2 separate regions of the Homo sapiens genome follow, and region 1 is linked to region 2. The links come from fine-mapping of genetic effects on gene expression. A gene starts in region 2. The other region holds a variant in brackets. All regions are shown on one strand. Distances are from middle to middle.

Region 1 (15,330 bases), 650 kb after region 2:
CGCTCTCTCTTCCCGCCCGGTGCCTGCCCGGTGCGGGCAGTGCCAGCTGCCGGCACTCGCGGCCGCGGCCAGTGTCCGGGGCCCGCGAACAGGTGGGCCCTGAGAGGAGCGCGCGGCAGTCGCGCTCACTCACCCAGAAGATGAAGTTAAATCCGAACAGCAGGTATTTGATGCACTTGGTGCCTCCTTTGACCGGCATGGTGAGGGCTAACTTAGCCTGGGCCGAACGGGTGCGGGACTGGGGGGCGCGCGCAGCTGGGACTGGCGGGACCTGGCGCTGGATACAGATGCAGGCGGCTGTAGGCTGGTCTCCGGCTGCACTTTTAAAAAGTGCCACTCCTTAGGGCGCGCGACCCGCTGCGGTGCGCATGTGCCGGGAAAAGCCGCCCCCACTCCCCCCGCCGGCCACGCCTCCCGCCCCACCGGCCCCGCCCGGGCCGCACCCCCCCCGCCCCCCGCCCCCGCCCAGGTCGGCGAGCCCCGGCCCCAGCTGCCCCGCGGAGCCCGACCCTCTCCCTGTTTCCCCGCCTAGTCGCCCTAACCCCCACCCGCCACCCACTCCTTCTTCAAGCCGTCTTGGGGTCTTTGCAGGCAGCCACTCCCTGCCACTTTTACCGCGGACTTACGTGGAGGCCTCGCCCTTCCGGTTCCCCCGCGTTTGGTCTGGGCGCCGGACCGGGCGTTCTGCTTTGGGAGACTCTTCCCCGGGTCGTCAGGGCTAAAGGCCCCTTGGCCAAGGCCTGCTGCCAGAGTGAGGGGCCCTTCTGCTTTGCGAGGATTTAAAGGGAAGCCGCCTGGCTTAATTTCGCCCTCGTCTGTCTCCTTGCAAACCTTCGCTCGCTGACCATACTTTTCATTGGGCACAGCATGTGGGGTAGGAGGAATTAGAAGCGCGCAGTCTGGGTGGGATGACAGATGGGAGGCTTTTGGAAGTAATTAGCAAATACCTATCACCGAATAATAACACAGCTGAGGGCTGGGCAGTCCCCAAGCGCTTCCTGCACTTGAGGTTTAGTTGCCCCAGAGGGAAAAAGGGTCTGTAGACGGCTTCTGTTTTCTCTCTACTCCTCCACCCCACCCTCCCTCCTGCGTCTTTGGACTTGCTCGCTGCTGCCTTGAACTGCTCCAGATGCCGAGCTCGGAGCGCTTCTCCTGAGCTCACAAACTTTCTGTAGCTCTCCAGATTCAAGGACCTAAGTCGAAATTCCTCGTCTTGCCCTCAAGGCCCTGTACAGAGCACTGATCTGACTTCTCCCGGACCCAGAGCCCACCCCACTCGCTGGCCGGCATGCGCCCTGGCTGGCTGGCCCCCCCCCAACGTCACTTGTAGGAATTCTGTGGGTCTTTAAACACTCCTTTCCTGATTCTCTGGAGTGGACGAGGAGAGTCACCTTCTTTTGAAGTCCCCGAATCCCTTTGTATTATTTTCAAAATGAAGTTTCCTTTACTGTCCTTTATGATTACAAAAGCAAGATACAGTCATTACAGAAACAACCGAAATACCAAGAAGTGAAAGGAACAGACCTCAAAATTCTGCTCACCAGAAACAGCCACTGTTAGCACATTGCTGTTATTTGCCTGTTTATTATCAGTAGACTTGTCTCATTGGTTCAAAAACATTTTTCAGTATCTATTAGGGTATTTCATTAGGGGTAGGAGCTGAAAAACATGGATTAGTCCTTGTTTCTGCTCAGGGACCAGTGTGGGAGGAGACAGGCAGCCAGACAATGGTTTGAGGGTGATAGGTGCAGTTACGGGGAGAGGCTTGGGGGCTAAGAGGCTAAGGAGAGGCCTCTGACCCAGACTGGGAGATGATGCTGCAGAACCACAGGGAAAGTTGCCGCCAAGGGAGAATCCTGGGCAAAGGCTGGGGCAGGGGCTGTCCGGGCTCTGGGCTGGAGCCTGGAGTCACGGGGTAGTTTGTGGGAAGGTGAGAAAGAGCCTTGTGCTCCTGGACTTTGCACTCTGAGCATTAGGGGCCACCGAAAGGTTCAAGCAGGGGAATGGTTGGATCTGCTGTGTTTTCAGAGGTTCTCTGCCTGTGTTTTAGGTAGTTGGGTGGGGGAAGGCCGGAGGGGCAGGTAGGAAGCCCCTTGAGGACCAGGACCATTGTTGGCATCTCCAGTCCTTGGCTCAGTGCTTTACGGGATTGCATGGAACATGGAGATGTTGTATTTGGGGAGACGCAATCAGGTAATATGAGGGGAGCAGTGGTAGATGAAAGTTGAGCTGAGGACCAGGTGCAAATCTGCTAGGAGGCTGTGGAGTAGTTCAGGTGAGAGAAGAATGAATGAAGGCGGGGCAATGGGATAAAGCCTAGAGAAGGCAGGGCAAAACCCCATGAGGTGTCAGGCCGGGAAGGGGAGGGAGAGATCAGAGGCAGAGCAGCAGAAGCTAGTAACAAGTAGGGGCACAGGGCACATCCCCACGTCAATCTGAGTCCGAGAGGCTCCCCAGAGCAGGGGACATTGCAGCAGCTGACTTGACTTGGGAAGGTGGAGTCAGTAGTCAATGCGGAGGAGGGAATTCCAAGAGGGAACTGGATATGCAAAGACACAGAAGCGGGCAGCTGGCTGCACTGGGGAAACAACCGATAGTGGTACATGGGGAGGAAGGAGGACAAGGAAGGAGAGGCAGGGCCTAAACTGAGCCTAATGCCAAGAGGACAAGCAGAGGAATTTTGGTGATGCTTGACTTTACACATCCTAACCAGTGTCCAGGATGATTCCAGCACAGGGGAGGAGTGTGAAGCACCCTGGAGGGTGGGAAGGAGGCCGGAAAACAGTCAGTGTTCCATTGTGCCCTTTTGGGCCTGCGTCCATCTATCTTGGGAGACAGGTCTTAGGAAAAGAAAGATTTTATTGCATCTCCCCCTTCTCCCAAGTTAACAAGTACTGGTGGGAGGAGTTCAGTAAATATTTAAGTTTATAATAGAAATTACTTATTAGGGTAAACGTGAGTGTTGACAGAGGAAATCCACAGGGAGGCCTTAGAACCTGCCTGCCACAGAAGCGCTGCAGAAACGCTGCCTGTTGCTCCTATTCCTATTATTGTTTACACTGAAGAAAGAATTGGGGTCAGCCTATATAGTTCAGTGCCACATTCGTATAATCAAGGCATCCTTTTTATGTGATGAGAGCATTGGGCCTGAAGTGAGGGGGTCTGAGTTCTACTCTTGGTTCTGACCCTTTGGTCTATGTTAGGCAGGCAGCCTCCTCTCTGGGCCTCAGTCTCCTCACCTGTACAAGAGTATTGTGAAAGGAAAATAAATCTTAGGACCCCAAAATCAATAAGCCAAAGGAAAAAATCAAGCTGGGAACTGCCACAGGCAAACCTGCCTCCCATTCCTAAATAAGATAGCTACAAAGATTTTTTAAAAAGCTATGCACTTCTCGGCCGGGCGCAGTGGCTCACGCCTGTAATCCCAGCACTTTGGGAGGCCAAGGTGGGCGGATCACGAGGTGAGGAGATCGAGACCATCCTGGCCAACATAGTGAAACCGCATCTCTACTAAAAATACAAAAATTAGCCAGGCATGGTGGCGCATACCTATAATCCCAGCTACTCGGGAGGCAGAGGCAGGAGAATCCCTTGAACCAGGGAGTTGGAGGTTGCAGTGAGCCGAGATCGCGCCACAGCACTCTAGCCTGGCGACAGAGTGAGACTCCGTCTCAAAAAGAAAAAACAAAAAAAGCTATGCACTTCTTGTTGGGCGCTGTGACTCACACCTGTGATCCAAGCACTTTAGGAGGCCGACGCGGGAGGATCATGAGGTCAGGAGATCAAGACCATCCTGGCTAACACGGTGAAACCTCGTCTCTACTAAAAATACAAAAAAATTAGCCGGGCGTGGCGGCGGGCGCCTGTAGTCCCAGCTACTCAGGAGGCTGAGGCAGGAGAATGGCGTGAACCCGGGAGGCAGAGCTTGCAGTGAGCCGAGATCGCGCCACTGCCCTCCAGCCTGGGGGACACAGCCAGACTCCGTCTCAAAAAAAAAAAAAAAAAAAAAAGCAGCTATGCACTTCTTTCACAATTTGCCCATGAGGAAATTTCTGGTGGACCCTATGATATTTGCCCTAAAACAGTTCTGTTGAATTTCACCATGACAATGTAAATTGATAGCATATCTTCACAGGTACAGAAAAAAGGACAGAACTCAAAGTCATCCCTCTGCTCACCTGAGACAAATGCATATCTGATTGCTTCCTCCAATGTAAAAATGAAGATTCGCTGTGCTAGACAAGGCATAAGTGACTTATTTCTCTACCCTCCTCTGCCATGTAAATTGTGCATTCAGTGAGAGGATGATCAGTGACTCAAAAGAATGCAACCGTTTGTTTCTTACCTACCCACACCTTAAAAAAACTTTCTTCCTCTTTCCCCACCAGCCGCCTTTTAAATATTGAAGCCCTCAAAATCATCTTTGCAGAAGGCACAGATCTGCCTCCTGGGCGCCCATCTGTAACCTTGGCAAAATAAACTTTCTAAATTGATTGAGACCTGTCTCAGATACTTTTTGGTTCACAGCATTTTGGATCAGGAGGTGTCTTTCATTCCTCCTGACATTCTGTGTCACAATAAACCCCTGGGCCAAAGTGCATTTGTTACAGACAGTTAGTGCTACAGGCAACCAGGAAGGTGAGCGATGGAAAAATTATGTTTTGCCTTAACCGGAAGAGGAAAATATGGGTAAGCCCCTGAGTCAGAAATCACATGGAAGCAGCCAGGCCTTCCAGGCTTTGTGGTGCTGGAGTGGGAAAGCTTTTCCTCCCTTCCCTCAAGGCGTCCTGTCTCTGGGAAAGAAACCCCAGCTCAGGCTCAGGGTCCACTTTGGCTCTTGTGCCCCCCCTGGTGGTAAGATTTGAACACGCAGAGGCCAGGTGACCTAATGAGCCGTCACACCCATGCCCCAGGTCCCTCCAGCTGTGGGCAATGGCTTTGTAAGGCAACAGGTAGGACCCTCGCTCTCACAGGCCACCAAGGCCCTTCCAGCCACCACACCAGTGGCCATCTTGATTCACCTCCTTCACTTCTAGAAGCTTCTCTCCTGTTCCTCTTTCTAAGCTCAAATACACCACCTTATGAAGCCTTCCTGGAGCACTCCAGTCTTTTTCTCCGTGGATTACCTTGAGTCTCGCATGTGTGATTCTCTGGTCATCATCATCTTCCTTTATGTGTCCACTTCTTGGTAGTGAGCTCCTCGAGGGTGCACTTGCATTTGATTAATTTCTGTGCTCTCCCTAGCTCCCGGTCCCTTCCTGGCCCAGAGCAGGCCCTCTGCAAACATCTGCAGAATGACGGCTGGGCGTGGGGCTTTCTCAGGCCCCTGCCCTTCTCTCTCAGACCTCTCCTGGAGCACTCATCCCCTTTTGTGCCTTCCACCATTTTCTCTGTTTAACTCATCTCTCTGTAAATGCAAGTCCTGATATCCAAGAGCCTGCAGATTTTTTTTTTTTGAGACCAAGTCTCGCTCTGTTGCCCAGGCTGGAGTGCAGTGGCTCAATCTCGGCTCACTACAACCTCCATCCCTGGGCTCAAGAGACTCTCTTGCCTCAGCCTCCCAAGCAGATTGAATTACAGGTGTGCGCTGCCATGCCCGGCTAATAATTTTTTTTTTTTTAGACGGAGTCTCGCTTTGTCACCCAGGCTGGAGTGCAGTGGCACGATCTTGGCTCACTGCAACCTCTGCCTCCCGGGTTCAAGTGATTCTTCTGCCTCAGCCTCCCAAGTAGCTGGGACTACAGGCGCACACCACCATGCCCAGCTAATTTTTGTATTTTTAGTAGAGACGGGGTTTCACCATATTGGCCAGGCTGGTCTTGAACTCCTGAATTCGTTATCTACCCACCTCAGCCTCCCAAAGTGCTGGGATTACAGGCGTAAGCCACCGTGTTTTTTATATTTTTTATATTTTTTATATTTTTAGTAGAGATGGGGTTTCCTCCTGTTGGTCAGGCTGGTCTTGAACTCCTGGCCCCAGGTGATCCGCCCACCTCAGCCTCCCAAAGTGCTGGGATTACAGGCGTGCGCCACCGTGCCTGGCCCGTTTCCACTTCTAACGGCCCTCCAAATAGGCCCACGTTCCAATCCCCAAAACTGTGAATGTGTTACTTTCCATGGCATAGCCTGGACCATCCCAGTGGGCCCAGTGGAATCCAAAGGGTTCTTATAAGAGACAGGTGGAAGTGTCAAAGCCAGGGAAGGAGATGTGACGACAGAAGCAGAGGTCGCAGTGATGCACAGCTGTGTGTTGGGGAACAAGGACAGCCTCTAGAAGCTGGAGAAGGCGAAGAAACGAATTCTCCCCTGCAGCTGCCAGAGGGATCCAACACAGCCCTGCCCACCCATTTTAGATTTCAGACCTCTAGAATTGTGAAATAGTAAATATGTGTTACTTTAAGCCACTAAATTTGTGGTTGTTACCGAAGCAATAGGAAATATAGTAATCTCAATGTAAACATCAAGATCAGAATTCATAATCTCCAAGGGCTTTCTAGGCTCGCAGCTGACTTTCTCCTCAGCCCTCCCTGTCTCTAATCAGTCAGCACCAACACCTCCCATCACCTGGGGCTCCTCCTTCCCCCAGCCTCACAGCTGCTTAGTGAATGTGATTCCTGTTTCTTAGCTGTTCTTACGTCATTGCTGGGAGGCACCAGGGCTAAGGCGGGTTGTAGTGATTGAGTGGCAGAGCACAGATCAGACCTCAG[A/G]GCTTCTGGTTTCAGTCCAGGGTTGGATCCTGATCTTTTGTTCCCCCTGATGCCCTGCCATCCGCAAGGGGGCTGCATCCTGGAAGCTCATCTGCAGCCCAAACGGCTGTTCTACCCTTGCCCTGCCTCGCTGCTGTTCACCTGCCCAGGATGGACACAACATTGGACCCAGAGAGTCTTGCTGCGTGCGTCCTTGGGGGTGGGCTGCCCTCCTCTCACCCATCACTTCTTTTCCTTGCATTAAGCACACACACACTCAACCTGGAAACTGCCTATGTCCAGTGTGGATTTTATGAAGGTTTCACGGATAGGTGGATGAGGGGTTCCCTCTCATATGCCAGAGAGAACCATTCTAAGAATCCCTCTGGATAGCTCTTCTCAAACGTCCAATCTGTGGCAGCCACCCCTATCATCTGCCCCCCAGCCCAGCCTCAGCCAGCCCCCTGCCCTGTGGATGTCCTCTGCATATGTCTGTGTGGAGCAATTTAGCTCTAAACTTGGCATTTTCCGTTTGTGTCCCCACCTCCCCTCACCCTGCTCAGCAAAACAAATCATGGCTCTCAGGGTCTGTCCTCCTTAGTATATGGGGGTTGGGGGCAGGCGGGGAGCAATTCTAAACAAGCAATATTTAATATCATCCTTTCATCAGACTCCTGAAGCTCAGCTTTACTCTTTCCTGCTCAAAGATCTCCCAACTCCCCTTACCCCTGTTCTACTTCCAAACAATGCTCCCATAGCATTTACCTTCTCACAGAGTGGAATGTTTCCTTGGTATGTGCATTGCTATTTACCTGTCTCCTCCAGCTAGAATGCAAAATCCGCATGGCTGTTCTGTTCTCTATGTATCCCAAGGGCTTTGAACAGTGCCTGACATACAGTAGGTGCACAATATTTATTGAATGTATGGAAAGCCGATGTCTCAATTGTAAGATCATCATACAGGCCCTCTGCTCTCTCGCCTTAACCTCTGTTTGCAAATCTGTTCACTCTTTTGGAATACCACATGCATCCCCAGCTCTATGCCTGGGTCCCCACCTCTTCTTTCCGAAGCCCAAGCTCTTGGCACTTCCTCCTTTCTGCCCTTCAAGCAGCCTGCACCATCTCTGAGGCCAGCCCAGCCCCTGCCTTCCCCAGCACCCTCAGTCATCTTAGTCTGCTCTGATCCTCTTTCTCAGGACACTCCTGTAGCAACTTCTTTCTGAATCATCCACTAGACTCTTACAAGATTTGTCCTGGGTGATAATTTCAGGTTTCATGCATCTGTTTAAAAGAGTTGGCTGGGCGGCCGGGCGCGGTGGCTCACGCCTATCATCTCAGCACTGTGGGAGGCTGAGGCGGGCGGATCACGAGGTCAGGAGATCGAGATCATCCTGGCTAACACAGTGAAACCCTGTCTCTACTAAAAATACAAAAAATTAGCCAGGCGTGGTGGCGGGCGCCTGTAGTCCCAGCTACTAGGGAGGCTGAGGCAGGAGAATGGCGTGAACCCGGGAGGCAGAGCTTGCAGTGAGCTGAGATCACACCGCTGCACTCCAGCCTGGGCGACAGAGCGAGACTCCGTCTCAGAAAAAAAAAAAAAAAAAAGATTAGCTGAGCGTGGTGGCAGGTGCCTGTAATCCCAGCTACTCAGGAGGCTGAGGCAGGAGAATCGCCTGAACCCAGGAAGCGGAGGTTGCAGTGAGCTGAGACTGCGCCACTGCACTCCAGCCTGGTGAGAGTGAGACTCCGTCTAAAAAAAAAAAGATTAGCTGGGCATGATGGCGGGTGTGGGGAAAAGAGAGATCAGATTGTTACTGTGTCTATGTAGAAAGAAGTAGACATAGGAGACTCCATTTTGTTCTGTACTAAGAAAAATTCTTCTGCCTTGAGATGCTGTTAATCTCAATGTCAAACTCAGGGTTAAATGGATTAAGGGCGGTGCAAGATGTGCTTTGTTAAACAGATGCTTGAAGGCAGCATGCTCCTTAAGAGTCATCACCACTCCCTAATCTCAAGTACCCAGGGACACAAACACTGCGGAAGGCCACAGGGACCTCTGCCTAGGAAAGCCAGGTGTTGTCCAAGGTTTCTCCCCATGTGACAGTCTGAAATATGGCCTCGTGGGAAGGGAAAGACCTGACTGTCCCCCAGCCCGACACCCGTAAAGGGTCTGTGCTGAGGAGGATTAGTAAAAGAGGAAGGAACACCTTTCTGCAGTTGAGACAAGAGGAAGGTGGGCAATGGAATGTCTCGGTGTAAAACCCGATTGTATATTCCATCTACTGAGATAGGGGAAAACCGCCTTAGGGCTGGAGGTGGGACATGCGGGCAGCAATACTGCTCTGTAAGGCATTGAGATGTTTATGTGTATGCATATCTAAAGCACAGCACTTAATTCTTTACCTTGTTCATGATGCAGAGACCTTTGTTCACGTGTTTATCTGCTGACCTTCTCTCCACTATTATCCTATGACCCTGACACATCCCCCTCTCCGAGAAACACCCAAGAATGATCAATAAATACTAAGGGAACTCAGAGGCTGGCGGGATCCTCCGTATGCTGAACGCTGGTCCCCTTGAGAGGTGACAGCGTGCTGGCAGTCCTCACAGCCCTCGCTCACTCTGGGGGCCTCCTCTGCCTGGGCTCCCACTTTGGCGGCATTTGAGGAGCCCTTCAGCCCGCCGCTGCACTATGGGAGCCCCTTTCTGGGCTGGCCAAGGCCGGAGCCGGCTCCTTCAGCTTGCAGGGAGGTGTGGAGGGAGAGGCGCGAGCGGGAACCGGGGCTGTGAGCGGCGCTTGCGGGCCAGCTGGAGTTCCAGGTGGGCGTGGGCTTGGCGGGCCCCGCACTCAGAGCAGCCGGCCCGCCCTGCGGGCCCCGGGCAATGAGGGGCTTAGCACCCGGGCCGGCGGCTGCGGAGGGTGTACTGGGTCTCCCAGCAGTGCTGGCCCACCCGCGCTGCGCTCGATTTCTTACTGGGCCTTAGCTGCCTTCTCGCGGCGCAGGGCTCGGGACCTGCAGCCCACCATGCCTGAGCCTCCCACCCACTCCGTGGGCTCCTGTGCGGCCGAGCCTCCCCGATGAGCGCCGCCCCCTGCTCCACGGTGCCAAGTCCCATCAACCACCCAAGGGCTGAGGAGTGTGGGCGCAGGGCGCGGCACTGGCAGGTAGCTCCACCTGCAGCGCTGGTGCGGGATCCACTGGGTGAAGCCAGCTGGGGTCCTGAGTCTGGTGGGGATGTGGAGAACCTTTATGTCTAGCTCAGGGATTGTAAATACACCAATCGGTACTCTGTATCTGGCTCAAGGTTTGTAAACACACCAATCAGCACCCTGTGTCTAGCTCAGGATTTGTGAATGCACCAATTGACACTCTGTATCTAGCTGCTCTGGTGGGGCCTTGGAGAACCTTTGTGTCGATACTCTGTATCTAACTAATCTGGTGGGGAGGAGGAGAACCTTTGTGTCTAGCTCAGGGATTGTAAACGCACCAATCAGCGCCCTGTCAAAACAGACCACTGGGCTCTACCAATCAGCAGGACGTGGGTGGGGCCAGATAAGAGAATAAAAGCAGGCTGCGTGAGCCAGCAGTAGCAACCCGCTCGGGTCTCCTTTCACGTGGTGGAAGCTTTGTTCTTTCACGCTTTGGGTCTGCACTGCTTTTATGAGCAGTAACACTCACCACGAAGGTCTGCAGCTTCACTCCTGAAGCCAGTGAGACTATGAGCCCACTGGGAGAAACGAATAACTCCTAGACTTGCTGCCTTAAGAGCTGTAACACTCAACGCGAAGGTCTGCAGTTTCACTCCTTAAGCCAGCAAGACCACAAACCCACCAGAAGGAAGAAACTCCAAACACATCTGAACGTCAGAAAAAACAAACTTCAGACGCGCCACCTTAAGAGTTGTAACACTCACCTCACCGCGAGGGTCCGTGGCTTCATTCTTGAAGTCAGTGAGACCAAGGACCTACCAATTCCAGACACACCCTGGGCCCCCTTTTTTTCTTTCTCTACACTTTGTCTCTGTGTCTCTTTTCCAAGTCTCGTTCCACCTAATGAGAAGTGCCCACAGGTGTGGAGGAGCAACCCATCCCTTCAGGCAGGTGCCTGTAATCCCAGCTACTCAGGAGGCTGACGCAGGAGAATTGCCTAAACCCAGGAAGCGGAGGTTGCAGTGAGCTGAGATGGTGCTATTGCATTCCAGCCTGGGCGACACAGCAAGACTCCTTCCCCATAAATAAATACTCTCCAGCTAGATTACCAGCTCCTGTTGTACCCACAGTAGGTACCTTCCAGACACTTAATGTAGTAGGTCTGAAGAACTAACACTTGCATGGGTACATAAGATGTAACTAATGCTGTTCTAACTGCTGTATATAAACTCAATCCACAAACAACCCTTTGAGGTTGATAGTTTTACAAATGGGGAAGCCAAGTCACAGGCGGTTCATGCTCTTGTTAGGAAGCAGCAGAGCCGGGATGTAAACCCAGGTGGCCTGGTTCCAGAGCCCAGGTGCTAAGCTGCTGCTTCCTGTGGTAGGTAAATGTGGACTGGCACTACACTGCCGTTTTTGCCCTTTGACTGTAGAGGTGGGTGAAGGGGCTGCAGATGACTCCTCAGCAGTTGTGCCATCTTGAAGGTGCCTCCCTGCAAGGCGACTCTGAGTCTTAGGGCTGCTGACAGGTGGTGAGCCTGCAATTGGGTCCTGCCTTTGCTGGTGCTTGTCTGTTCCTCTGAGGCTCGCTTTCCACAGCTGCAGAGCGAGGATGATTACTGCTCTTTCTCCACCATGAGGGGTGGGGATGGGCGGGTATGTGCCCAGGCAGCCTGCCCCTGGCTCAGTGGTAGGCAATGCCAGCCCATGGGTAGCAGCTGCAGCTTCTCTTCACTCTGTGGCTGCTGGCTTCTGTTCTGGTTGGTGGTTCTGGCTTCAGGTGGAGGAGCAGGGACTCTGGGGGCTATGTATTTGTGGTATTTCCTGCGTAAGAGGGTAGAGAAGCTGTAGGCAATTAGCATGGGGCTTGAAATTAGAAGTCACAGGTGCAAGCCCTACTGCATACTTACCTGGGAGCAGAGATGACCTGAGCAAGTCTCTGCTTTTCTGAGACTCCATTTCGTTATCCACAAAATGGGCTTAGTAAAAACTCCTACTTTGCTGTTGTAAGAGAGTCAGATGAAATCCTGGATGTGTAAGTGCTTTGTAAACTATAAGGGTGCTTATAAACTTGATTTTCAATTTTAATCTCAGTACAGGAGTAGTGGACTTGGTTGTTATAAAATGCTAAATAGCCCCAAGGCTTGGAGTCTTGGAGAATGTTGGCAAGATGAGCATTTTCAGCTCTGTCTTCTGAGTGTCTTTGCCCAGCATGCTAGGTCCTGTTCACCCCACATTTACTGAGCACCTGAGTGCTAGGCTGTGGGAGGTGCCCAGGATAAGCCACGCCCTAGTTTTGCTCATGAGAAACTCACCTCCTAACTGGTGATATAGGATGTGGTGGACGCCAATCATTAGATGGTAACAAGGCGAGGAAGAGTTAGGGAAGTGAGGAGTTGCAGGGGTCCAGATATCTGAGAGCAGGACTGACCAGGCAGCCGTAGCAAGACACAGGTGGGGACAGGGCAGTGCTGGGGGCCACTGGGCTCAGCTCTATGCCTGCTTCCCATTTCCACACAGCTTAGCCTAAGCTGGTCCTGAGAAGGTTTTATTCATATCAAAGGGCAAACGAAGTTGCTGAATCTATCTTGCTGACAGTTTCTTTGTGTCTCATATAATGTTTGGCTGATGCTCCTGAAACTATAAGCACCCAGAGGCAGGGTCGCTGTCTCTCCCAGCTGTATCTGGGGTGGGTTGGACAAAGGTCCCCCTAGAGGGCCAGTGTGTGTGTGCACACGTGTCTGCATGTGTGTCTGTGTATAAGAGATGGGACTTTCGTCTGTAGGTTCAGGTAGATATGGGCAGGTAAAATACAGTGAAGGTAAGAAGCTGTCACTAATGTCTACCTGTGGCCTGTGGGAAGGGTTTAGAGAGAGGGAGAATATGGCCATGGAGTCACTGCCTAAAGACAAAGGAAGTCTGAACCTCATTGTGTGGCACGGGCCTTTGTAAACCAGCCTCTGCTGACGTCCAGCACCTGATTTCCCACTCTGGCACCTTATATGCTCTAGCTGGTTTTATTTGTTTATTTTTGAGACAGGGTCTCACTGTGTCACCTAGGCTGGAGTGCAGTGGTGAGATCATGGCTCACTGCAGCCTCGATCTCACAGACTCAAACGAGACTCCCATTTCAACCTCCCAAGTATCTGGGACTACAGGTGCACGCCACCACCCCCAGCCAATTTTTGTATATTTTGTAGAGATGGGGTTTTACCATGTTGCCCAGGCTGGTCTCCAACTCCTGGACTCAAGGGATCTGTCCGCCTTGGCCTCCTGAAGTGTTGGGATTGTAGGTGTGAGCCACTATGCCTGGCCTGCTCTAGCTTTTAACAGCTCTACTTCCCTAAATACCTCGAACTCTCTTTCTTTCCCTCCCTCCCTCCTTTCCTTCCTTCCTTCCTTCTTCTTCCTTTCTTCCTTTCTCTTTTCCTCTTTCTTTCCTTTCTTTCCTCTCCCTCTGTCACCCAGGCTGGAGTGCAGTGGCATGATCTCAGTTCACTGCAATCTCCACCTCTTGCCAACCCTCTTTCTTAATAAACTTTTAATTTTGGAATAATTTCAGTTTAAAAAAAGTTGCAAAGATAGTGCAGCTTCCTTCTAATGTTAACGTCTTATATAATCGTGGTATATTTGTCAAAACTGAGAAATCAACATTGGTACAATACTGTTAACTAGACTGCAGACTTTATTTAGATTTCATCAGTTTTTCCACTGATGTCCTTTTTCTGTTCCAGAATCCAATCCAAGTTTCCACATTGCATTTTGTATTTTGCATTTTTTTTTTTTTTGGACATAGAGTCTCGCTGTCGCCCAGGCTGGAGTGCACAGTGACACGATCTTGGCTCACTGCAACCTCTGCCTCCCAGGTTCAAGTGATTGTCCTGCCTCAGCCTCCTGAGTAGCTGGGATTACAGGCACCTGCCACCAGGCCTAGCTAGTTTTTGTATTTTTAGTAGAGACCGGTTTCACCATGTTCGTCAGGTTGGTCTCGAACTCCTGACCTCAGGCAATCTGCCCGCCTCAGCCTCCCAAAGTGCTGGGATTACAGGTGTGAGCCAATGCGCCCGCCCTGTATTTTGCATTTTTTTAAATTCTCTGGACTCACTGGGCTCATTTCCTATTTCTCTGTTTTTGACCCTGTCATTCTCTTTCTCTACAATAACTTTCTTGTTTCCAGCAAACTCCTATTCATCCTGCAGAACTCCTCTCTTAAATTAGGGATAATGTTGGGAACTTGGTAGGATTGGGGTTTTGGGATCTGGCTGTTAACAATATTAATTGACACTCCCTTTTCCATACCCAGGATCTCATTTGATGCTGCTTCGGTTTTTATTGTGCCCTTCTTTATGCAAATACAAGCAAACACTAATAGATGTTATTCGCCATTCCACCTCTCCCAGCCGTGGTTACTAGAGGGAATGTGTTTAGAGGTGGCTCTCACAGGACTGTGCAGGTGGCTGGTGGCAGAGCTAGAGTAGGACTTGGACCTCCCGACTTCCAGTTTAGCCAACCCCTCCCCCGTCCTGCACATTCTGCGCATCTCCATTTTTCCCGGTTGTCCAATCTGGGCACGCTTTGGTTTAACACCTGGGTCTAGGAGTGTGATATGGCTCTGATGGAGGGATGGTGGGTTTCCTGTGGCTCTCCCACCCTACCCACATAGAGTGACTGCAGCACTCTTGACTTTGGGGACTTTCCTCAGGGCTAAATTGTATCGCTGGCATTCCCACCACTTCCCCACCCACCTCCAAGCAGGCCAGGAAGCCAGAATGTCAGAGCCTAGACTCCCCAAGTCTGTTCACCACGTGTAGCTTTGGTGGGGCCTTCTGCCTCCCATCCGCTCCAGCCCAGAGCTCCACTGAGGCTTCCCCTCACCCACCACTTTTTGGGACCCCTTGGGAGCCTTATCTCCATGAAGCATTAGATTTTTATTTTAAATTTCATTTAAAAATAGATCATTTGTTTATATAACTGAAAAATAAAGATACAAGAGAGGGAAACGTGTTTCTCCTGGAAACTGTTAATCTGTAACAGAGATTTAGGAGTTCTGTCCACCAAGGGCAACGTGTGGGCCTGATTCTTGAATCCTGATGCAGACAGACCAGTTATTAAAAAAAAGGTTTTGTAGGCAGTTAGGGAAATTTAAATATGGACTAAGGACTAGATGATGTTAAGGAAATATTGTTAACTTTCTTACGTGTGATGATGGCATTGTGGTTATGTGTTTTTTGTTTTTGTTTTTTTTTCTCTCTGAGACGGAGTCTCGCTCTGTCGCCCAGGCTGGAGTGCAGTGGCGCGATCTCGGCACACTGCAAGCTCCGCCTCCCGGGTTCACGCCATTCTCCTGCCTCAGCCTCCCCAGTAGCTGGGACTACAGGCGCCCGCCACTACGCCCAGCTAATTTTTTTGTATTTTTAGTAGAGACAGGGTTTCACCGTGTTAGCCAGGATGGTCTCGATCTCCTGACCTCGTGATCCGCCCGCCTCGGCC
Region 2 (11,957 bases):
GAAATGCCAGGAACCCAGAACTGACTGGACAGTCATGGTCCACAGATCTCCTAGGGCAGGGAGCAGTCATGGCATTGGGCAGTGGAGAGAGGCTGCTTAGAGCAACACTGAGGGAAAACAGTCCTAGTTGGGAACCAAGGGGTACTGGATTCCAGGGGTGGAGTCACCCAGTGACAAGGGACAGCAGTAAGAGAGTCCGAAATGGGAGCTGATGGGGGGTACAGAATGGGGAGGGAGGGCTGGGGAGGGTCCTTCCAGCTGAGGAAGCAGCAGCCAGGGCTGGCCCTTACCCACACGCTCAGACTTCATGGAGTCCCAGACATTGCAGTTGAAGTCGTCGTAGCCAGCGAATAGTAGGCGGCCACTGAGGGAGAAGGCCACGGACGTGATGCCGCAGATGATGCTCTCGTGGGAGAAGCAGATCAGCTCCTGGTCTGCCCGCAGGTCAAACAAGCGGCAGGAAGCGTCATCCGAGCCCGTGCAGATGGCCTCTCCATTGGGGAAGAACTGAGGGCACGGGTGGCAAGTGGGTCAGGGATCAGACCTGGGCAGCCCACAGCCTCTCCCGCCCTCTGCCTCCCACCTGACAGCTCCAGGGCAAGCCGCTGCTCTCAGCCTCCCTGCCTGTCCCTCCCTTGGTTTGGGGTGAGAAGCAGCCCTGCCAACACATACCACGTGCCAGTGACTTCCCTATGCCCCTCGCCCGCTCTGCACTATACAGCGCTGCAGGCAGGCATCATTTCCACGTCGCAGGCAAGAGCACCAAGGCTTGCCTGCAGTGACCCGGCTAGAAGGGCGGACGGAGGTTGTCCCAGACTCCCAGACTACACAAGTGGGCTGGATCAGGGTGTGTAAGAACAGGGTCCAGTACAAATGCAAGGCCTGGATCTCACGGCGAGCAAATGTCAGATAAGCTCAAACGGAGGGAGAGTCTACAGAAAACTGGTTTGTACTCTTCAAAAACGTCAATGACATAAAAGACAAAGGTGGGAAAACAGTTCCAGTTTAAAGGTGGTGACGAAAAAGATATGGCGAGGAAAGGTAATGCACGTTTCTGGATTGGATCCTGGACAGAAAAAAACATGAGCTATTATGGACATTTTTGAGGCTATTGGTGAAATTTGAATATAGACTGTAGACTGTAGTATTGTGTCAATGTTGAGTTTCCTGATCTTAAGAATCATACAGTGATTATGCTACAGAAGGGCTTTGTTTCGGGAAGTACTTAAGGGGTAAAGAAACATGATGTCTGCAACCTACTTTCAAAAGACACAGAAAGAAAATGTATATCTACATCTAAGTGTGTATGTGTGTGTGTATCTATGGCTATTTCTCTACAGAGAAAAAATGATAAAGCAAACGTGATAAAATGGGCTAGGCGTGGTGGCTCATGCCTGTAATCCCAATATTTTGGGAGACTGAGGCAGGAGGATCGCTTGAGCTCAGAAGTTCCAGCTCAGCCTGGGCAACATAGTGGGAACCCATCTCTACACAAAAATCAAAACATTAGCCAAGCGTGGTCACACGCATCTGTAGTCCCAGCTACTCAGGAGGCTGTGGTGGGAGGATTGGTTGAACCCTGGAGGTTGAGACTGCGGTGAGCTATGATAGCACCACTGCATCCAGACTGGGCAACAGTGTGAGACTCTGTCTCCAAAAAAAGGAAAGAAAGAAAGGGCTAGGGAAGACTGGGCACAGTGGCTCACATCTGTAATCCCAGCACTGCACTCTGGGAAGCTGAGGTGGGAGGATCACCTCAGGTCAAGAGTTCAAGACCAGCCTGGCCAACATGGCAAAACCCCATCTCTACTAAAAATACAAAAATTAGCCGGGCATGGTGGCGCACACCTGTAATCCCAGCTACTCAGGAGGCTGAAGCAGGAGAATTGCTCCAACCCAGGAGGCAGAGGTTGCAGTGAGCCAAGATTGCACCACTGCACTCCAGCCTGGGCGACAAAGTGAGACTCTGTCTCAAAAAAAAAAAAAAAAAAAAAAAAAATACAGTAAGAAAGGGCTAGGGAAGCTATGGGAGGGGCAGAGGATGTGTATTGTATGTGTTGTGGGGAGTGTCGGGGAAGGAGTTGGAGTGAAGCTGGGGTGGGGGGTGCACTCACACAGATGGCGTTGATGTCCGACTCGTGGCCAGTGAAAGTCTGACGGCAGGTCCCCTCTCGCACATCCCAGAGCTTGGCACTGGCATCACAGGCCCCCGAAATGAAGAGATTGAAGTCAGGAGACACAGCCAGGCTCATGCAGTCACCCGTGTGTCCCACAAATACAGTCTTCTGCTGCCCAGTCTCAATGTCCCACAAGGCACTGCCAAAATGGAGGGAGACTGTTAGAGAAAGGCCGGGCCCACTCCCAAGCCCCAGCACCAGCAATGTTCAGCCTCACCACGTGGTGTCCCCCGAGCTGGTCACAATATTGTTGTCATCCAGGAAGCGGCAGCAGGAGAGATAACCTGGAGGCGGTTAGAAGGACAGTGCCCTGGCTGCAGAGCCACAGCCCACTGGAAGCCCAGGGTTCCCTGAACCCCTCAGGAGGGGAGGAGAGGGTCTCTCCCTCACCTGTGTGAGCAGAAAGCTCCCGGCTGACCTTGACATTGCCCTCACGGGATTTGAGGTTGTAGATGGAACACATGTTGTCCAGCCCCCCACATGCCACAAAGTTCCCTGATGGGGCATAGGCACAGGTCATGACCCAGGAGGAGCGCAGTGGGATGGCGTGCACCTGCAGGGAGGGTGGTTTGAGCAGAGATGGGACCGGAGCCAAGCTCCCAGCTGGGCACAGGAGGGTAGGCATGGCGCCCTTAGGAAGGATGCAGTGGTGGAGGCTCAGGGAGGCAGGGCTGGTACCTTGTTGGTGGTGTAGCTGTCCCACACGATCAGCTTCCCATCTTGCGAGGCACTTACCAGCAGCCTGGGGAGAGGGCATCCCATATCATGCAAGCCTCCCCTTCCCGCCTTCCTCACTCCCGCTCTCACCCTCCCATTCTCGGTTCCCCCCCAAGCCTCACTTAGAATCAGTGGCCCAGTGCATGGCGTAAATCTTGGCCAGGTGTCCCCTTAACGTCCGCCGCGTCCGCATCTGGACTCGTCCCACCACCTCTAGGCCAGACACCAGCTGCAGAGAGAGGGGCACTGAATATCAGGGTGAGCAGGTTACGTGCCCAGATGTCTGTCACTGCCACTGATCTATACAAGTTCCCGCTCTGTGCCAGGCTCTAGGTCAGGCCCCCAGCCTTAGAGAAATAAGTCTCTGCCCTGGAGTGTCTTAGACTGATGTGGGAAAGAGATGCATGCATGGCCAGAGGTGTGTTGCTTGTAAGTGTTTAACAAGCACCTCTCCAGTGTTGGTGAGGAAGGTGGGAAGGTGATTTCCACGATACGAATACTTGCACTTTGACCAGTTTCCAGCTGCCAATGTGAGGTCATTGGAAACAGATTTGGGAAGAGATGCACAGAGCTGGCTCTCCCAAGCCGAGAGGAGCCTGCTTGCACCCACCGCTGCAGCACGGCTAGCTTTTTAACTGGGTGCCTGGGGCATCACCATGACCCTGAACTGTACCTCCTGAAATCTGTGGTACTATGCCCCTTGAGCTCTAACCACATTTTAGACTTAGGCTGGGGGTCCAGAGTGAACAGACTTGATTTGCCATCACTTGCATTGCTATCTTTTTTTAAAAAGTTAAAAGCAATTTTTTTTATATTAAGAAGAGATCTCACTATGTTGCCCAGGCTGGTCTCAAACTCCTGAGCTCAAGTGATCCTTTCACGTCAGTCTCCCAAAGGGCTGGGATTACAGGCGTGAACCACTGCGCCCGGCCTGCTTTGTTATCTTGGGCAAGTTGCTTCACCTCCCTGAGTCTGTTTACTCAAGGTGTAAAATGAGGCTTATCATAGCACCTACCTTACAGAGATATCATGAAAATTCAATGAAATCAGGTATTTATGCAGCTTAGCCCAGTATCTGGCTCATAAAAAGTGTTCACTATTAACATATTTAATCCAATCTAAGATGCATCACTAAGAAAGAAAAGATGCTGTCAATTCTAATTGAAACAATGATCCATTGCTGAATGCACCTTGATTTCAGAGATGTCAAAATGTGAAGAAATGTGCATCTTAGAATTGACAAAATACAGCATAGAAAACTAGCAGCTAGAGTCTACAAGGGCTTTATAATTTACAAAGTACTATCGCTTCTTCATCTTCAAGGCCCTGGGAGGGGGCTGTGGTCACTCTTGTTCTACGGATGAGAATAGGAACCGTGTCCGCATCTTTCGCATCCAATATGGTGCCTGGCTCAGAGCAGGTCCCGCTAAAATGTTGGTCGAATGAATTAATTAATGGGTTTCCTCACTCCAAGGACGTGCTGTACTAATGCTCGGAGCAACGCGCTATTGCGGGTCGGGGAGCTCCCTTCCCCTCCCCCCATGCCCTGCCTTCCGGGGGACAGGGGGTCTTACCTCTGCCAGAGTAACGTCAGCACAGGCTTTCCTGGCATCCTGCAGGGAAAGCAGACATCAGGGGAGCAAGGGCGAGGTGGGGGTGGCAGGTGCATGGGCCTTCAGGGCAGGTTGGTCTTGGGGCTCTGGGGCTTGGGGGTCTCAAATATGCGAACCAAGTTTAGAAAGTCCCTGGTCACTTCTAGTCACTCAAGAGCAAACCCAGCCCCCTCCCCCTGGGCCACGCTCCTCATGTCCCCAGCTGTTTTCTGGGGCCCCAGGGGTAGGGCTCTGGAGTTACTGCAATCTGCTTCTTGAGCTGCTCCGCTTCCTGACGCAGTTGCTCCATCTCCCCCATGGCTGACAGGTCGAGGGGTCACTCTGGCTCCTGCCAGGAACATGGGGTCGGTGTTGAGGAACCCCCCACCAGGCTGTGCTTCTGCCCTTCGTGCCCACACCAGACTCCAAGACACAGGGAAACGACTGGGTGGCTGCACCCTCTCCCCAGCTAGGCCCTCCAAGTTTGAGGTCCTTTGCGTCCAGCCCCAGCCTGCCTGAGCCCTGCCTGCGCCCCAGCCCAGGAGAGCAGAGCCCAGGCCAGCTCCCTCTTACTTGGGCTCTGGCTGGACCTCGGCCGGGTTTCCAGCTCCGGTTCCTGGGAGCCTCCTTACTCCCTCAGCTGCGACGCCCGCGCCCGCCCGTCACCTGCCCAGGCTCTGCTGCCAGAGGAGCTGGCCTGGCCTGGCCTGGCCCCGACCGGCGGGGGGTTGGGGGGGCCTGACAGGGAAGGGTAGAGCCAACCACAACGTCAGGCAAATGAAATCAGCTGGCAGGGGTGGGGGGAAGGGGTGGGGGGAGGGAGGGAGGTGTACGGATTCCAGAGAGACTTGGGCCCAGCCGGGAGGAGGGTTGGGGGCAGGAGTGTGGGGCCATAGAGAGGGGCAGCCCCCACCACAAGCCCTGAGAGAGGAGGGGGTGAAGGGGTGCTTCCCTGGTCAGTCTCTGCAGGCAGAGATAAGAGCATCAGGCCCCACAGGATTAGAGCAAAGCTGTGAGGATTAAGGGTTGGGGTTTGGGAGGGGTGCAAAGGAGCAGACAACTACAGCTCCAGTGGCCCCCCTGGTCCCGGCCCCCATCCATGGTGATGATCTTGGCAGTCAGGGCCACTTAGCAACCAGGCCAGGAGGTGGGATATAAGGGTGATAGATGGCCCCATTGTCAGTACCTCAAACTGTGCTCCTCAGCTCAGGGTGGTGGGGAAGAGGGTTTGGTGAGTATGGGAGGGTACAGGCAGGAGCTGAGATTAGAAAGGACTGATCTGGATAATCCTTCTTCTCGACAAACCCCAACCAGCTGCCTCTGGGTCTGATCCTGTTGGGGGAGAAAGGTACAGGGGACCCACAGAGAAGGATGGACAGGTCTGCCCCTATTGTGGGCGGGCAACGGATTTCAAGTGGAGGGAAGGCCCGCACGCTGCTCCCAGGCTGGGGTCTGGCCCCCTCCTTGCCCTCTCGAGGCTGTGAAAGCAGGGGTCAGAGAGAAAGCAGGCGGCCCTAAGTCTCAGCAAAGCTCAGAGAGGGAAGACAGGGCTTACACTTGGAGGCCTAAGGAGCAGCTGCCAGGGGCTTGGGTCATTTGCATGAGGGGAGCAGGTGGCTGAGATTTCCCTGACAAATCACAGGCTCCAGGCGCCCCGCCTCTGGGAGGCCCAAAGACACCTGTCTCCTCCCAGGCCAGCCAGAGCCACCCCCACCTCCAGCCATCACAGAATCTGTGATACACTTGACTGGCCCCTGGCTGAGAGATCTTCACGACCTTTATTGCACAGACTGGGAGAGAGGAGCAGGGTTATACCTCCCAACCCCACCATCCTCTTCATTTAAAGCATCAGCCTCCTCCCCTGCCATTTCTGTTCAGGGAGGCACAGTGTTCCCCATCTGTCCAGGGCTGCAGGTCCGGCAGCGGGGCCCCGTCCCAGCTCCCCAGGCCTGGTGAGCTCCAGGCTAGCCTGTGCACTGTCCTCTGAGTCCAGGCCCTTGTAGGTCCCCAAGATGGTGGGGGTGCAGGGACAGAGAGCTTGCTGTTCTGCTCCTGATGTCACACAGGGGCTTCCTGTGTGTCCTGGCATCAAGATGGCCTTCCACAAGTCAAGTGGCCACATCCTCAAGGAGCTGGCTCAGCCACTCACAGCTCCTCCCGAACCCGAGGTGCCCTTCCAGTCTTGTCTTGGACCCTCTGGTGCCTGCGGCTAGGGGGCTCTGGGGAAGGGTCTTTGCTGGGCATTTCTTCCTCTTCCTCTTCCTCCTCCTCCTGTGACTCCTGCAGCAGTTCTTTGGCTTCTATCCACTCCTGGGGTTGGGGAGGAGAGTGTGGCCCATTCCCTGCACCCACCTTCCCTGGGTCAGCTCAGCCCCTGACCCTCACCGACTGTGAGCCTTCTCGGGGGCTCCTTGCCCACCCTTCACGCACCAGGAGAACCACATCCCTTCCTACCCCGCTCCTTACCTGCTCCCTGTGCTCAGGTGCCCACGTGTGCCACAGTGCCAGGGCACAGCGCCGTCCCCGAGTCACGGCCCACACCCCATGGGGATTCTCGACACCGGAGCTGAAGGCCACAAGGCGCCCACAGCGAGGACGCACCCGAGCCTGGAGGGATGAGGGCAGGTTCAGCTCCAGGGATTGGCTCTCTCAGAGAACTTGGCCCTCACTCCCTAGAGCAGGATGGGGACAGGGGCACAGAGAGGATCAGCTCTCTCGCTACCACTTCCTACTCCTTAATTCAGGGACTAGCTTGGGGCAAATGAGAAATCAGCTTCAACTTGCAGAGCAAAAATGCAAGAGGAGTTGGGAACCAAAGGAAAAAGGGGTCTCCACGGATGGTCTCCTGTTGGTTCCTGACCCCTGGTACCCTGATTTTTCCCACTCAGCCCTTTGAATCCAGGGCTTGAAGCAATCTGGGGCTGTGCATGCAGTACCAGACTCTATGCAGAAGGGGATACAGATATTGGAACCATTTTCACACCCCACACCCAGATGAACAATCACTGCCCCTCTCCTCCTACCCAATCCTAGCCCCTGGTGTCCGGAAATTTCCCACCTAACATTCATTAATTGCTTATCATTACCAGGCGCTGCCTCATTCTTTTAGGTACATTACCTAAATTACTTCCTACAATGACCCTTTAAAATACGTACTATTATTATCACCCCAGTCTAGGAAACTAAACCTCAGAAAGGTTCAGAATCCGAGCCCCAGTCAAGGCGGCCCTGGTATCTGTGCGCCAGCCACTGTGCTCACCTCGCTGCAAAGAGGAAGGACTATTTCAAGTTCCCCAAATCCCTAGAATAGGGCCATGGAGTCCTGGAGGCACCTGCAAGCTGTGCTTCATTCACCCTTCTTTAGGAGGCGAGACAAATACTGATGGTAGGGTTGATTCGGCCACTTAGAGACCTTGCTACGGAGGAAGCAGCGGGAGGGCTGCGGAGGCGGGGAAGTGAAAGGGTTAAAAGCCCTGGCCATTTCCCTGCATTTGCCTCTGGAGCCTTCTGTTTTGAATCCTGACCCCACAGCTGGGCCCTTTGTCACACCGTCACACCCCCCACTCCACGCACCGTGACAGTGAGGGCGTTGGGCTCCGTGAAGAACAGGTCCCCACCCTGGAAGTCATCGTTGAGGTAGAGGAGTCCGCTGGGGAGGGAAAAAAGCAAGAGGCAGTGAGACCCCAACCCAGGCCCAGGCCGGCAGTGGGATGACCTTTGTCTGCCCACCTGCCTGACCACTAGAGGGGCTGCCCACCTGTAGTCCCGATAGGTGTAGGCTGGGGGCTCCCGCCAGCACTCTCCCGTGTCAGGGTCCAGGACGCAGTTGTCTGCGTGCACTGGGTGACTCAGGTCCATGCGCTGCTCTTGCTCTCCTAGGACACAAAGGGGTCTGGGGGTACCTCTGTGCCCCTGTGCCCATCTGCCACCCTGTGGGCTCAGGCCGTGCACGTCCACCCCGGGGCTCTTGGGGGCAGTGTCCTGGGGGCAGGGCCTGAGGTTGGAGAAGAGCAGTGGGGGGTCCCTGTCGTACCTTCTATGGCGCTGCGGCACACCAGGTGGGTGAAGGACAGATGCAGGGGCCGTTCCGGGGAGAAGTAGGCCTGGGTCAAGGTCCGCACCCGCTCGCTCACCTCCAGAAGCAGCTTAGCACCCTGACTGCCCACTGTCCCAGCCCGGGCCAGCTGCAGGCAGTGAAAGGCAGGGCAGAAAAGGAGGAAGGCAAGGGGAGGGTGGTCTCGGCCCTAGCCCCTGCCCAACTCTGCCGCTCTCCACCCATGGGTTTGGAGTCTGTCAGCATCCAGCTCTGTCCATCAGCCCAAACTGCTCCTTCTCTCTCCATGACAACAACCCCGGCCCCAGCTCTCAGAACATCCCTTTTCTCCACGCTGGGTCCTATCAGGTAGTCTCGGTCCCAAGAAAGCTCCTTCACAAAAGCCCAGGCCCTGGGGCCCGGCTTCCTGCACAGCCTCTCCTCCAGGTCTGGGCATCAGACGGGCCCGGGTGCCTCCTGTGCTCACCTGCGCAGCCTTAAGCACCGTGAGCCCCTCGAAGCGTTCATGGGGGGTGTGAGGGGAGCGGCGACCACGATAGCCAGACCTGGCTCCAGCCCCAGCTGCATCCTAAATAGGAAGGAGTTTACCGTGGAGTCACTCCCCCAGCCCCTCACTGTCTGCAGGGCTGCAAGACCCTCCCTCCGGCCCTCCCGCTCTCCAGAAGAAGCTAGATGCTCCCACAGTTCTGTTGTGGCTCGTCTTCCTGAGCTGCTGCTCTTTCCCAGAGAGTGCCCACCGCCACGGCTGTCCGATTGTCCCTCTCTGGTACGGGCTGGAATCCCGCTTACTAAGGGGACTGTGGAGAGAACTCGGGAGAGCTTCCTACAGCAGTAAGGGGGCCTCTGAGAGGGTAGGGACAGCTGGAAAAGTGGGGCAGAGCTGGGAACTAGGCAGGAAGGGCTTGATCATTAATCCCCGATGAGCCAAGAATAGAGGAGTCCCTCTGGAAACAGGACCCTAAGAGGAAGTTCCACAGTTAGGCCAGACTGGCGGTAGGGAGACAGCATCAGCGGGCTATCCCTCTCTGACCTCTTCCCACCTGACATGCTCTCGGAGAAACTGTGGACTCCGTGGCTCCCCCACTCCTTGATACTGAGTCACAACTACCCAGCCACCTCCGCGACCACTCTCACTACCTGGGGGTCTCCTAATATCTGGATGTCTACACTGGAATTATTCGCTTTTCTGACACCCGTTTTTTGTCTACTTTTTGAATTTGTTTAAGCACCACTATCTAGTTACGCCTGCATACAAATCTCACTTCTGAGAGACACCTAGTCACCCAAGCCGTCTAACCTGGGGTTTTTTTTTTTTTTCATTTTTTGTTTTTGAGACGGGGTCTTGCTCTATCGCCCAGGCTGGAGTGCAGTGGCGCCATCATAGCTCACTGCAATCTCCACCTCCCAGGCTCCAGAGGTCCTCCCACCTCAGCCTCCCAAGTAGGTGGGAACATATAGGCGCATAGGCCCAGCTAATTTTTTGTATTTTTGTAGAGACGGGGTTTTACCACGTTGCTCAGGCTGGCCTGGAACTCCTGGGCTCAAGCCATTCGCCTGCCTCAGCCTCCCAAAGTGCTGGGATTACAGGTGTGAGCCACCTCGCCAGCCAACGGTGGCATTCGTCAATTACTCCCCTTTTCCGGGTCTTTCTCCCACTGCATTCTACAGACTGCCACTAGAGGGCTCTACCACTCCTACAGGTGACTCCAGACCCTGCACCTGATTCCAGGTACTACAGGAATGCAAAAGTCAACCGTCCTAAAATCCTGCAACAGCTGTCTACCATACACAGATAAAGCCCAAACTCCTTGGGAGGCCACAGAAGACACTCACTGTCCCTCGGCCTTCATGTGTGGGCTCTCTCCCTCTTTCCCTATACTGTCTCTTGGTAACATACACCCTGATGATTCTATGTTCTTTTTTAATTAATTAATTAATTAATTAATTATTTAAAAAAATTTATTTTTCGAGGCGGAGTTTTGATCTTGTTGCCCAGGCTGGACTGCAATGGTGCGATCTCGGCTCACTGCGACCTCCGCCTCCTGGGTCCAAGCGATTCTCCTGCCTCAGCCTCCCCAGTAGTTGGGATTACTGGCACCTGCCACAATGCCCACTAATTTTTTTGTATTTTTAGTAAAGACCGGGTTTCACCATGTTGGCCAGGCTGGTCTTGAACTCCTGACCTCAAGTGATCCACCTGCCTTGACCTCCTAAAGTGCTGGGATTACAGGCATGAGCCACCACACCCAGCCAGTGATGATTCTGTGTTCTAAGAGCTTTATCATGTGCTAACTCATTTAATCCTCACAACGACACTATGACAAAAACACTATTATTATCCTCATTTTATAGATGAGCAAATTAGGCTCAGAGATGTTAAAATAAATTGCCCAAGATCACACAGGTAATGACTATGGAGCTGGCCCTGCTCTCACCCCTGTGCTTGACTGCAGTTCCCAGAATGCACCATGCTCTTCTCCCTCTTAGACTGATTCCACCCCCAATCGCCTGACTAACTCATCCTTAAGACTGAGCTCAAATACCACCTCTCCAGCAAGCCTTCTATAACTGCATTTCAGTGCTTCTATTTGACATACTTTTTTTTTTTTTTTTTGAGATGGAGTTTCGCTCTTGTTGCCCACGCTGGAGTGCAATGGCACGAGATCAGCTCACCACAACCTCCGCCTCCCGGGTTCAGGCGCTTCTCCTGCCTCAGCCTCCCGAGTACCTGGGATTACAGGCATGTGCCACCACGCCTGGCTAACTTTTTTGTATTTTTATTAGAGACAGGGTTTCTCCATGTTGGTCAGGCTGGTCTCGAACTCCCAGCCTCAGGTGATCCACCCACCTCGGCCTCCCAAATTGCTGGGATTACAGGCATGAGCCACCATACCCAGCCCAAAAACATACTTCTTTTACCAAACTTACCACCTGCTTATATTATGTATTTCCTTGTCTGTTTCCACCTCTACACTTGAGCTCCCAAAGGGCAGAGTCTATAATCATCTTCCTCTCCCTAGAACCTAGCAGTTTCTAGTGTATAGCAGCTACTCAGTGAGTATATTACTGAATGAGCACTAACCTAAGATAAGGGTTGAAGCTTCATAAAATGGTAGCCTCAACCTGGTGAGTATGAGTCATTCAACCTAAACTAGGAGGGAAAGAAAGGCCTGCGTGTCTGCTGAGCCATCAGCCAAGCCAGTAACTAAACTCTTGGCTAACCAAGCAATCCTTACCTGCACACTCATCCATTTTTATGCCTTCATGTTTTTTGTTTTGTTCTTCCTATCAATTTCTAGCAAAATTCATTTGTAAAGAACATCCACCTATGTCAGCTAAATTAAGACGAGACGGAACTTATCCACAGCTGAGAGGCAGTGGTAAGCACAGTCCCGGTTGGATAATCAGGACAGGCAG

The links. PIP is the estimated chance that this variant, and not a neighbour inherited with it, causes the effect.
Region 1: its variant is fine-mapped to the expression of GNB3 in nucleus accumbens (GTEx, PIP 0.96).

Annotation. Positions count from the first base shown.
Region 1 is chr12:6,185,369-6,200,698 of GRCh38, reverse strand. CD9 (CD9 molecule) reads right to left here and starts at 299. Exons shown (of 8, transcript NM_001769.4): 1 at 134-299. The coding sequence starts at 199. RefSeq lists enhancers at 203-814, 815-1,427, 8,931-9,616, 9,617-10,302 and a silencer at 6,554-6,603. The variant A/G (reference allele first, on the strand shown) is at 6,708.
Region 2 is chr12:6,834,136-6,846,092 of GRCh38, reverse strand. It overlaps GNB3 (G protein subunit beta 3), which reads right to left and starts at 5,168. Exons shown (of 10, transcript NM_002075.4): 1 at 5,060-5,168; 2 at 4,749-4,835; 3 at 4,469-4,507; 4 at 3,017-3,123; 5 at 2,856-2,919; 6 at 2,568-2,730; 7 at 2,395-2,461; 8 at 2,115-2,316; 9 at 291-507. The coding sequence starts at 4,805. It overlaps P3H3 (prolyl 3-hydroxylase 3), which reads right to left. Exons shown (of 15, transcript NM_014262.5): 10 at 9,007-9,108; 11 at 8,520-8,670; 12 at 8,244-8,361; 13 at 8,060-8,135; 14 at 6,953-7,093; 15 at 6,246-6,796. The coding sequence ends at 6,632. It also overlaps a transcript of CDCA3 not described here.